Linked DNA regions of Homo sapiens. The protein of the gene in region 2 interacts with the protein of the main gene of each other region in a pairwise test. Each region holds a gene or a part of one and is shown on either strand. Other genes may lie near its edges. The genes, in order: BACH2 and INSYN2A.

Region 1 (7,309 bases), on a different chromosome or scaffold from region 2:
CCGGCTCCCACCCACAGACCCTTTGGCACCGGCTCAGAGAGGTCTTTGTCCAAACTGCTCACCCCAGAATAAGAATGCACCGAGGTGCTCACTTGGTCACAAGCGCTGGAGGAGAAGATCACGCTCCTCCGGTCCAGCTCTCCCTCCTGTTTACAGAGAGCCTCCAACCCAGGCCCCCTGAGGGGCGACCCCATGGTGAAGTTGGACACCTCCTTCTGGCCCACGTGGGGCTGTCCATAATTCCCTGTGAAAGGGGTGTAGTCAGTTTTAAGGTCACCCTGAGTGATCCCCTTGTCAAAAGGGCAGGCTGGACTCCTGGCAAAGTGCTGCTGAGATGTACTGGGCAGGCCAGACAGCTCCACACTTTTCGTTATGCTGAACAGAGACCTTAAGCAGGAGGGCGAGGCCACGCTCCTGGATCTCTCCAGGCAGGCGGCCCCAGCTGGGGCCGTGGGGGTAGGGGCAGGGCTGGGCTGTTTCCGGTCCATCTCGACATCCCCCGCTCTGTCCTTGGCGTCAGGCTCATCTCCAGACAGGCAGAGCGTGATGCTCTCTTCCTCATTCTCTTCACTGGGCGGCTCACTTTTAATCTGCCCCCTGGCAAGCCCCGGCTTGAGGCTGTTGCTAGAGTTATCTTCCCGGAATGTGCTTGCAAAACCTGAGGTACTGTGTGATGATGCATTATAGACATTCTTGGTACATGCAAGCTGGTATTTCTTGTATCTGGGGTACTGCGTTAACGCGTCCTTTTCTGAGCTCTCCTTGGTGTCTGTGGGCACGTCAGGCTCGGGCAGCAGGGCTTCTTCCTTCTCTGCTACGGGGATGGCGGCGGCCTCAAAGCTGATGGGCTCTGGAAGCATCTGGTCCCTGGGGCAAGCCATCTTGGCCGTCTCTGAATCCATCGTCTCCTCCTCTTCATCCTCCTCCTCTCCTGCAGAGTTCTCGCAGTCCTCGTGTGGGCGCTGGCACGCAGCATCCTTCCGGCACACAAACAGGCCATCCTCACTGTTCAGGAGCTGGGTCTGCAGGAAGCTGAAGCAGGAGTCCTCCAGGTTGTGCATGCGCAGGAACTCAGCACAGCGGATGACCTCGCGGATGTTTTCTCTGCTGAGTAACAGCTTGGCAGTGTAGGCAAACTGTAACAGCGGCCCAAAGCCCCTGGCTGTGACCTGCAAAACAAACAGGGAAATCGCCAACATTACCATCAGCACTGCTATTGTCCCGAATCCCTCAACTGAAGCAAGATAACCAGACAGTGCTAATGTCCCAGAATAAAGACTGCAAAGGGGCAGTTAATCTTGTAGTACTGGGTCAGCAATGATTCTGCTTCCAATAATTAGTGCCTGTCTCGTGCATGCCACTGTTGTACTCCATCACAGCACAGGCAGAATTGAAAATCACCAGGGTCAAGTGGCTAAACAAGATGACAACGGGTTCAGTGTTTACACTAATGAAATATCCTGGCAAAAATGCACGGTGACAATGGGGAGCCTATTAATTTCCCTCCCAATCAGTCCTGTTGAGAGCCATTCTACACGAGGGGGGAGTGTTGTGACACTTCTTGCAGCTTGCTGGAGCCCAAGAGAGCCTTAACGTTTTCTTGTCAACCACAAAAATGGCAATGTGACCCTGCAAAAAACTAACTCCAGGGAGTTGTAAAAATAGGTTTTCCTCACTTACAATGTTAAAAGAGACATTAAAACAACTCCTGTTTTGCTCATCCATCACAGTTTCTACTTGAGACTTTCGGTCATCATGTCTACCTGATCTTATGATGATGATGATCTCATTATCTCACCAGAGATGACAACAATCAAAAGTGGTGTGCTCAAGATGAAATCAACCCCTGGCCCATAATGAATGGGGGTTGCAGAGTTAAACAAACCGGCTCTCATTTAAATGGTTGAAGCTGCTGAGTGGCACAGGGTATGGGCTATTCCTTCCCTAATTATTAGCAGCAGCTTTGCCATGCAGCTGTCTTTTTTTCCTGGTAAATCTTCAGGGGCTAAGCCTACTGTCATTTGCTGCTTATCTGTTATATTTTACAAAGATTGAAAGTGTGCTATTTATGCACAGCTTGCATATGCACACAAACACGTGTGTGCCCACACGCATGCCTGCTCACACACAATGACTTAGACAATTAAGAATATGTTGCCTAAGGCCAATTGTTTTTTCAGATGGAAATGGATTAAACTTGCTGGTGTTCATCAGGGTAAGCTTCCTTACCCTGCACATAAAACCACACATCCTCTAGGTTCTTGCAAGCACTGCTGACCACACAGGAAGGTGACGCATGTCTACAAATCCTGTACAAATCAAATGAAAGCAGCAATCATGGGGTCCTTGCTAGAGGCTATGGTAGCAGTGATACAAAATTTTAGCGGGGGGAGTGAGTGCACAGCAAGGTGAACTGGTAAACTTTGTAGCTGACTTCTGTGTGTATTAAACTCACCGCAGCATACAGAGCCAAAATTCTTGCAAGGACCTGTAATTGATGTTCAAGATTCAACCTGGACATTCACTCCTTTGGGAGTGCTCTCCAGTCCTCTTAGAGAGAATGAATGACATTGTCCTCTCAGCTCTCATAGCCAGATGAGGAGACGTGCTGGATTCTCCAGGGCAGCACTGATTTCATATCATTGCATTCTTTCCAGTAACGGAAATTTCTTAGACATGTAACTGAACGGGATTTTAATTGTTAATCTTTTTAAAGTACTCAAGTAAGATTCCACATTAAATTTTTCTGTCAGATGATGAGTCCAGAGATATTTGGTTAAAAAAACAAAACAAAAAGCCATGACTGCTAGACCCACATTATAAATTCTATATGGGCAATCAGTGCCATCTCCCTTTTATTATACCTAATTGTGCCTGTTTCTACCATAAGACAGCAAGCTCCTTCAGATCAGGAATGGTTTTGTCTGTCTTTGTAACCTTGCATCTAATCTAACCTGGGGTCTCTCACATGGTAAATACTTGTTAAAAGCTTGTATGTTACCAAATATGTCATGAGTCAAACTGTGTCCTAACATACTACTACTGTGTATGCAAGGTGACAACACAGTATGTTTAGAGAGTGTTGTCTCAAGTTACTTTTGGAGCAAGGCATCATGTAAACCAACTAACTGAACCGATCAACTGATCAAAGGCAGGCAGGCAAGGGTCTTTGTTTGCCCCGTGTCACAGTACCAGTATTAAAAAGGAGGTCTGACCGACACTTTTGTATCCTGCTAAGCTGACATGGTAATAGGTTCAGCAAATGTAGTACTGACAATACATCTGTTTTATGTCCTTTTCTTCCAAGAATCTTTAAAAGAAAGTAAAAAAGCAAGGAAATGTGTATTTATAGGTAACTGAAGAAGATGACAAGAATGTCACATGACCTATTCCTTTACTGCCACATGGCTCCACCACAAAGAAAGAAATGGTGAAATCAATGCAGAGTTGACCCCTGCCCTCGTAATGATCCTATGCTCCTCTGTAATGTGCCAGTTGCCAAAAGGGTGGATAAGACACTTCTTGAGTTTTGGCAAAGGTGCTCACTATATGGGAAATGTAGGAAACTAATTTCAATGCTATTTATACTGTTCACACAGTTTTTCTTTTTTTTTTTATTATTATTATGCTTTAAGTTTTAGGGTACATGTGCATAATGTGCAGGTTACATATGTACACATGTGTCATGCTGGTGTGCTGCACCCATTAACTAGTCATTTAGCATTAGGTATATCTCCTAATGCTATCCCTCCCCCCTCCCCCCACCCCACAACAGTCCCCAGAGTGTTCACACAGTTTTTCTCATACTCCCATCCTTATCACCATTTTTTTTTTTTTTGATGCTGTAGGTCTAAGTAAGTCTTACCACTATCTTCCACTGTGGCCTCTTGTAAAGAAAATTTCTAAAGAAGCCAGGGACATCCATGGGGATCTGTAGATCAGGAAGCAGTACTGGGAGTCACCCTCTGCCACATGGCTGCAAGGAGCTGGAGAAAGCATCTCCGCTCAGGGACGAGCTGATGCTTAAATGTATGAATTGGACCAAGGAGGTGAATGAGCAAAGTCTCCACATCACAAATCAATGGCACTCCTTAGATCACTGAGGCTTAGGAAACTTCCTGAGCTTGAAATGATCGTCATATGGTCATGAAAGAGTCATAGATAAAAAATCTGGTTTGTAAACTGTCACTTAAGCCCAAGGGCAGAGGAAATGGTGTCCTCACCATGAAAGTTCAAGAGCTCATAACTAGCTCTTCTCCCATTCTGGTTTCAGTCCTGCTTTGTCATATTTAAGTCTGCAAGATTTTGCTCAGCTTCTGTGTGTGAGGCTTTGTTTGGTGAGCCAGAATGACCATTTACCAAGTATCTCCTAGTGCCCAGCACTGTGCTCTTGTAACACCCTGCAAGGCAGGCATGACTGCCCTTATTCTGTAGATAAGGAAACTATGAAGCAGGGAGGTGAAGGAGTTTATCCATGGTCAGTGCTAGTCAGTGGAGAGCTAGGATTCCAAACCAAGTCCAGTCTGTTTCTTCTTCTGTGCTAGTGGTGTGAGGGAAGGATATGTGTAGGACTCAGGCCTGTGCTCAAGAGATCTAAGATTTAGCTTTGTAGAAGAGGTACAAATGATGAAAAGTTAACTAAGTAACAATGTAAGCAAGTCAACAATGGAAAAGCCATTGCAAGATTATATGAGTAGTTGTCAACTGAGAAATCCAGACAAGTTCAGGATAGGAGACTACTGAGGCTGAGGGGACTAGCAAGGGGGCCCCTTGAACACTTTTATCAGCACGCCTTGAGTGTCTGCTCTAGGTCAAGGGTTGCTTTGATACGATGGCTACTTTCGGAACTGTCACAAGGGTCCCTCCCAGGAACCCATCTCTGGTCTACTTTCGGCAGTGGTAATCGCTCCAGATACACAAAACAGAAAGCAAGTGCCCATCACACCTGCCAGCAAGTGTTACAACAGGCAGAGGCTTTCTAAATACTGGCTTAGCCTCCATCTTGAGAAGGTGGCACTGTCTACCCATTTTTAGGGACCATTTAAATTCATTCATTATACTCAGAAGGCAAATATTCAGGTACCAGTGAAAAGCTGTATGTTCATGAAACTGTGACCACAAGTCTGCATTGTTACTTACTTTTTGTTCTTAACAAATAAGGCTCTAATAATGGGAAAAAATAAGAGGGGGGTGGGAGGTGGAGAATTACACGCAAAACTAACAACTCATAAAATGGTATTTTAAAAAGTAATGATCATAAAGTTAAAATGGAATGAAGTGGCTATAAATAGAAGAATAGTTCCAACTCACTGATGTTAATGGAGTTGCATCCCTCTGCTCTAAGCAGACCCATCTAGACTAAAATCCACTGGTCAGCAGTGGCCTCAAGGTATGAGAAACAAATGCAAAATATGGTGTTAGGGACAACTTGGGATAACAGTCTTGCATTTTGAATGAAAATATTTTGAATGCCTCATTTCGAAGAACATTTTTTCATTGCACTTAAATATGTAACTACCTGGTCTCATACTGTGCAATACTCATTCTGATACAGATGAGATGGGATCACACATTGGGGCCAGAATACAGTGTGCCATGTGGGGGCGAGACCTCGGAGAAGGCAGAAAGTTAACCCTCCAACCTCCCACAGACTGCTTCCTAGGAGGTGATGACCTCAGCTAGCAGTTGGCACATAGTTGGTTCAACCCTGAAAGAAATAAGGCCAGGGTACCGTGTCCGATGGTGCAAGTCAACATGCTGACAATGTGTTGAAATTTGACCCACTGTAACTATGACCCTTAATCCTTCATTACATTGGATTCTAACATATCATCTCTCTGCTGAAAGGAAGATGGGCTGATGAAAACTCAATTTGTAGAGAAAGTTTGGGCACTGTTTGCAAAGCTGGGGAGCTCAGTGTTTTGGGGAGCTCAGTGTTTTGGGGAGCTCAGTGTTTCATGAGACATCCATTTTGCTGCAGGACAGAGTTTATGAGGATACTTACAACAGTTCCATCTCTGGACTATGATAGGGATGAGGCAGTCAGCCTTCAGGCATTTATTGAAAATAGGGTTTGAGGATTTTTGAGACTTGGAACATCATTCTCTATATAAGCTACATGACTAAGGTGTCTCCAGTTGGTTTTGGCAGTATATACACATGGCTGTAGCATTGAGCCCATCTGCAGAAGGCTGATCAGATGAATCCGGAGGACAGGTGACTGCTCCCTGGGAGAGGGCTGGCACGCTTCTCAAGGTCCCTTAATCACAACTTCACAAAAAAGGGAAACTTACATCTTCAGCAACACCATGTACACTTTCCTGATGAAGCTGAATCTCTTACACACTGCAGGAACCAGGAAGATAAAGGTAATGAACCCCTGCCCAAGGGCTTTTTAAAACGCTAGACCACTGACAACCCCTCTGGGTTGTATTTGCACAGCAAGGCACTTGTCAAATGATGAAAGCAATGCTGGTGACAATTAACTCTCCCTTCCCACTCTCTTACTGCACTGCAACCCACTCTGCAGGATGAAAACTGACTTAGTGATCAGGCATCACTCCTCATCTTAATTTTCTATAATTCATATCCACATTATCACATTCTTCTTCCAAAGCAGCATGCTAGACATTTAGAAAGTATTTGTCAAATTAATTCACCTTACTATTTCAACAAAGCTTCTGGTTATTTTAGTATTAATTTTTATTTTATCTATTTTTACAGACAGGGTCTCCCTATGTTGCCCAGGCTTGTCTTGAACTCCTGGGCTCAAGGGATCCTCCTGCCTCAGCCTCCCAAAGTACTAGAATTACAGGTGTAAGCCACCACATCTGGCCTCGTATTAATTTTATTTATTTATTTACTGACAGGGTCTCATACTGGTTGTCCAGGCTGGAGTGCAGTGGCATGATCTTGCCACTTACTGCAGCCTCAACCTTTGGGGCTCAGGTGATTCTCCCAACTCAGCCTCTTGAATAGCTGGGACTATCGGCATATACCACTATGCCCAGCTAATTTTTGTATTTTTAGTAGAGACGGGGTTTCACTATGTTGCCCAGGTGGTCTCAAACTCCTGGACTCAAGCAATCCGTCTATTTTGACCTCCCAAAGTATTGGGATTACAAGTGTTAGCCATTGTGCCTGGGCAATTTTATTATGAATTTTAGATAGAGCTTATTTTGTGTTCTATTCCTAAGGTAATAATATAAAAACTAAATCAACATTGAAATTGATTTATACATATATCATTTCATATGGTGGTTCTTTTAGCTAAAGAAAATCATTATTTGTCTTAGTGAATATGTCTTAA
Region 2 (2,971 bases):
AAAATCTGAAATGAAACTTACGTAGTCAAAGATGATAAGTAAAAATTTTCCCCCACCCCCGATCTGCAAGTAATACATTATCAACCTGCGAGATGGCAGGCTGTCACCCTGTACACAGCTATAACTCATAATTATTTTCAAGCCTTGATTTTTTTTTTAAATAATGAGAAGAAAAAGCAAGCCTTATGTTTGCGAAGGACTTCATTTTTATGTTTCATTTTGCAAATAAGCAGGGGGCGAGTGCAATTTTCAGCACATCAAATTCCGGAGAAAGCACAATTTTTTCAAGTGGTCGGAGACCATGAATAATCTCTAAAATGTGACTATATGTATATTTGCCTTCATGTGCTATAGCGCTAAGCCAAGTGACCACATCTCAGTGTCACAACGACACCTCAAATTTAGCATCCTCTTCATCTCCAGACTTACGACATGTTTACTGCTCATTTTCCAAATGGCCAGCAGCCAGGAGTCCCCCAAAGTCAGGATATGCCTTTAATCACTGCAAGTAGACAGGGTCAGAGCTATTGGACACTAAGTTTTCTTAGATCTCATTTTTAATCTTTTGGTACCCAAAGGCCAAATAATACATTCTGGCAAGAATCTGAGAACATACATAGAGATACACGATGGATAATCCACCCACCAATAAATCACAGGCATTCTGTGCCATGGCAGACAGTGTTTTTGTGGATCGATCCTCCGAGACACTGTTAGCCATGGTAAGTGCAGCCAGACGTTATGTACAATTCGTTATGCTTTGTATTAATGGTGGAAGCCCTGACCATCTCAAAGAGAAACAGTGCGTTTAGTTTAGCTGCTACCAAGGGACAATGTCGCCTACATTTAACCTATTAGTAAGTTGTACTAAACAACATACTTAGGGGAAAGCTGTGAATCAAATGTTTTTAGGTATTTTTTAAATCAACAGTAACACTTAGAGTTCTCTCTTGATTACACATTGCAATGTAAATCTTAGTTCCTTTATTTTTTCACTCATTTCTTTGCACCTTTGCAAGTATCTTTTTATAGAAATCAAATCCCCTAGTCTATTAATGACTTTGTCTATCAATTTTTTGATTTTCACAATAGGAAGTAGGGATCTTACTTTGCCTTTTTTTTTTTTTTTGTACAACTTAAATTTTGAATAGTTTGTGAGCATACAGGAAAACCTAGTCTTGAAGTTTCTGTCCAGCAGTTTCACATCTAGTGGAGTGCTGACATGCACACCTCATTGACTAGATGCCAAACACACAGTGGCTAACCTTGGTAAAAGGATCTCACCTGCTTTTGTCAGATTGGAGCTGCTTCTTGCCATGTATTTTCCTCCTGACTCAACAGCAAATCTGTTTTAGTTCTAAGTGTTTTGATTCTACAAGGACCTAGTGATCAGTAACCAGATCGGGCCTTGAAAAAAAAATGAAGAGTATGTCGTGTAAACATTCTTCGGGGGCCAAACAACACTGCAGTTGTATGCTTTAATTTAAAACACACATGTGCACACACACATCCTCTGCGGAAACACTATATGAAGTTCGAATCCCTGAATATCAATAAAAGGAACTGAGAAATATTTTGGTGCAAGAACAATGAGGAAGTTGATCCTGTAACATGAAGGAAGTGTAACTGTTTCACGTAGACTAAATATTTAAAAATGGGTTTCATGTTTTTTATACTGTTTTTAACTAAAGTTATAAAAATGTTTCCAACAAGTTCTCTCTCCTTATGTTTTAAGAATCCCAACTATCTCAGTAAATTGAAATAAGGGTATTAGCAGTTTTCTAATTAGTAACACAAATCTGTCTAAACAAGAGGACATCCTAGTACACAAAATAATGTCACTGTTTCACACCAGTCTAGACCAAAAAAAAATAAAATTAAAATGTTCAGAGTCAAAAAGGAACTTCTGAAGATAAATTAATTCATCCCTAAAAATTAAAGTGTGTTCAAAATAGAAAAACTATTGTCAAAATCATTTCATAGTTTAATTGCAACACGTCACTAACAGATGGTGATTCTTCTCTTGGAAAGATTCAAGTAAAAACGCTGATACAAAAGCAAGGTAAAACGCACAGGGTTCCCTTATGTAGATGTACACATGGCATTGCATATAGAGATTAAATTATTATACTTGTCGTTAAGTTCTTTATTAATTTTTAAATAAAAAAATCAAAGATGTTTTATGTGGCTATTAAACTTATTTCATGGCCTCAAAAATTGGGGAACATAAAAGTAATCTAAGAAAATAATAATAAAGGAAGAATGTTTGGGCCGATAGGCATTTCATCCGGTCTGCAGAAGACAAGAGCATCGTAAGGCCTGGGCCTGACCCACCAGCCAGAGCTGGCCTGGCTTGGGGAGGGAAGGGACTGACGCTTGCCCACCTATGCACCCTGGCATGGAGTTTCACCACCGGAACACATGGTGGCATTTTAGGATGCACACAGGCTCATAGCAGGAGGTATATGAGGTTTAATTCTTAACCTCAGAAGAAATGGCTAAATACATTGAGTGTTGCCACAGTACACTGTGGCATGTAAATCTTGCCTCCATGGCCCAGGGGAGGTAGCTTCTCTCTAGATCTTCCATTGAGCACATCCCCAGCCTCAAGGGATCAGCCGCCTCCTTCCTTTCTTCTTCCCCTCCCTAGTGGGAGATAGGCTGAGCGCCTACCTCTCCTGCTGACACTAGCCTAATACTAACCCATCTGCACACGTGGGCTGGTGTTTGCCTCACCTGGACGGCCTAGGAGAGGAGAGGCCACAATGCTTTTTCCCAGTATCTGCAACCACAGAGTCCATGTGCAAGGGAGAGGGCACTGCAGACCGACACTCAAGGCTCCTGCTACCATCGCATGTTCTTCAGGGAGAAGAAGGGGATTCCTCTTCTGACACATGCAGAAAGGGAAGGAAGGCCCAATGCACAGCCCAGAGCAGACAGAGGGAGGGTTCTGTCTCATTCTATAATCATT

What was found.
Region 1: the proteins of INSYN2A (region 2) and BACH2 interact in binary tests that used the Homo sapiens proteins (3 or more experiments, as listed by UniProt).

The regions. Positions count from the first base shown.
Region 1 is NC_000006.12:89,950,694-89,958,002, forward strand, and holds part of BACH2 (transcription regulator protein BACH2), read right to left. Parts: intron 1,170-7,309; coding exon 1-1,169. UniProt on the Homo sapiens protein: Transcriptional regulator that acts as a repressor or activator. Binds to Maf recognition elements (MARE). Plays an important role in coordinating transcription activation and repression by MAFK.
Region 2 is NC_000010.11:127,134,637-127,137,607, reverse strand, and holds the end of INSYN2A (inhibitory synaptic factor 2A), read left to right. Parts: 3' UTR 1-2,178; downstream 2,179-2,971. UniProt on the Homo sapiens protein: Component of the protein machinery at the inhibitory synapses, probably acting as a scaffold. Inhibitory synapses dampen neuronal activity through postsynaptic hyperpolarization.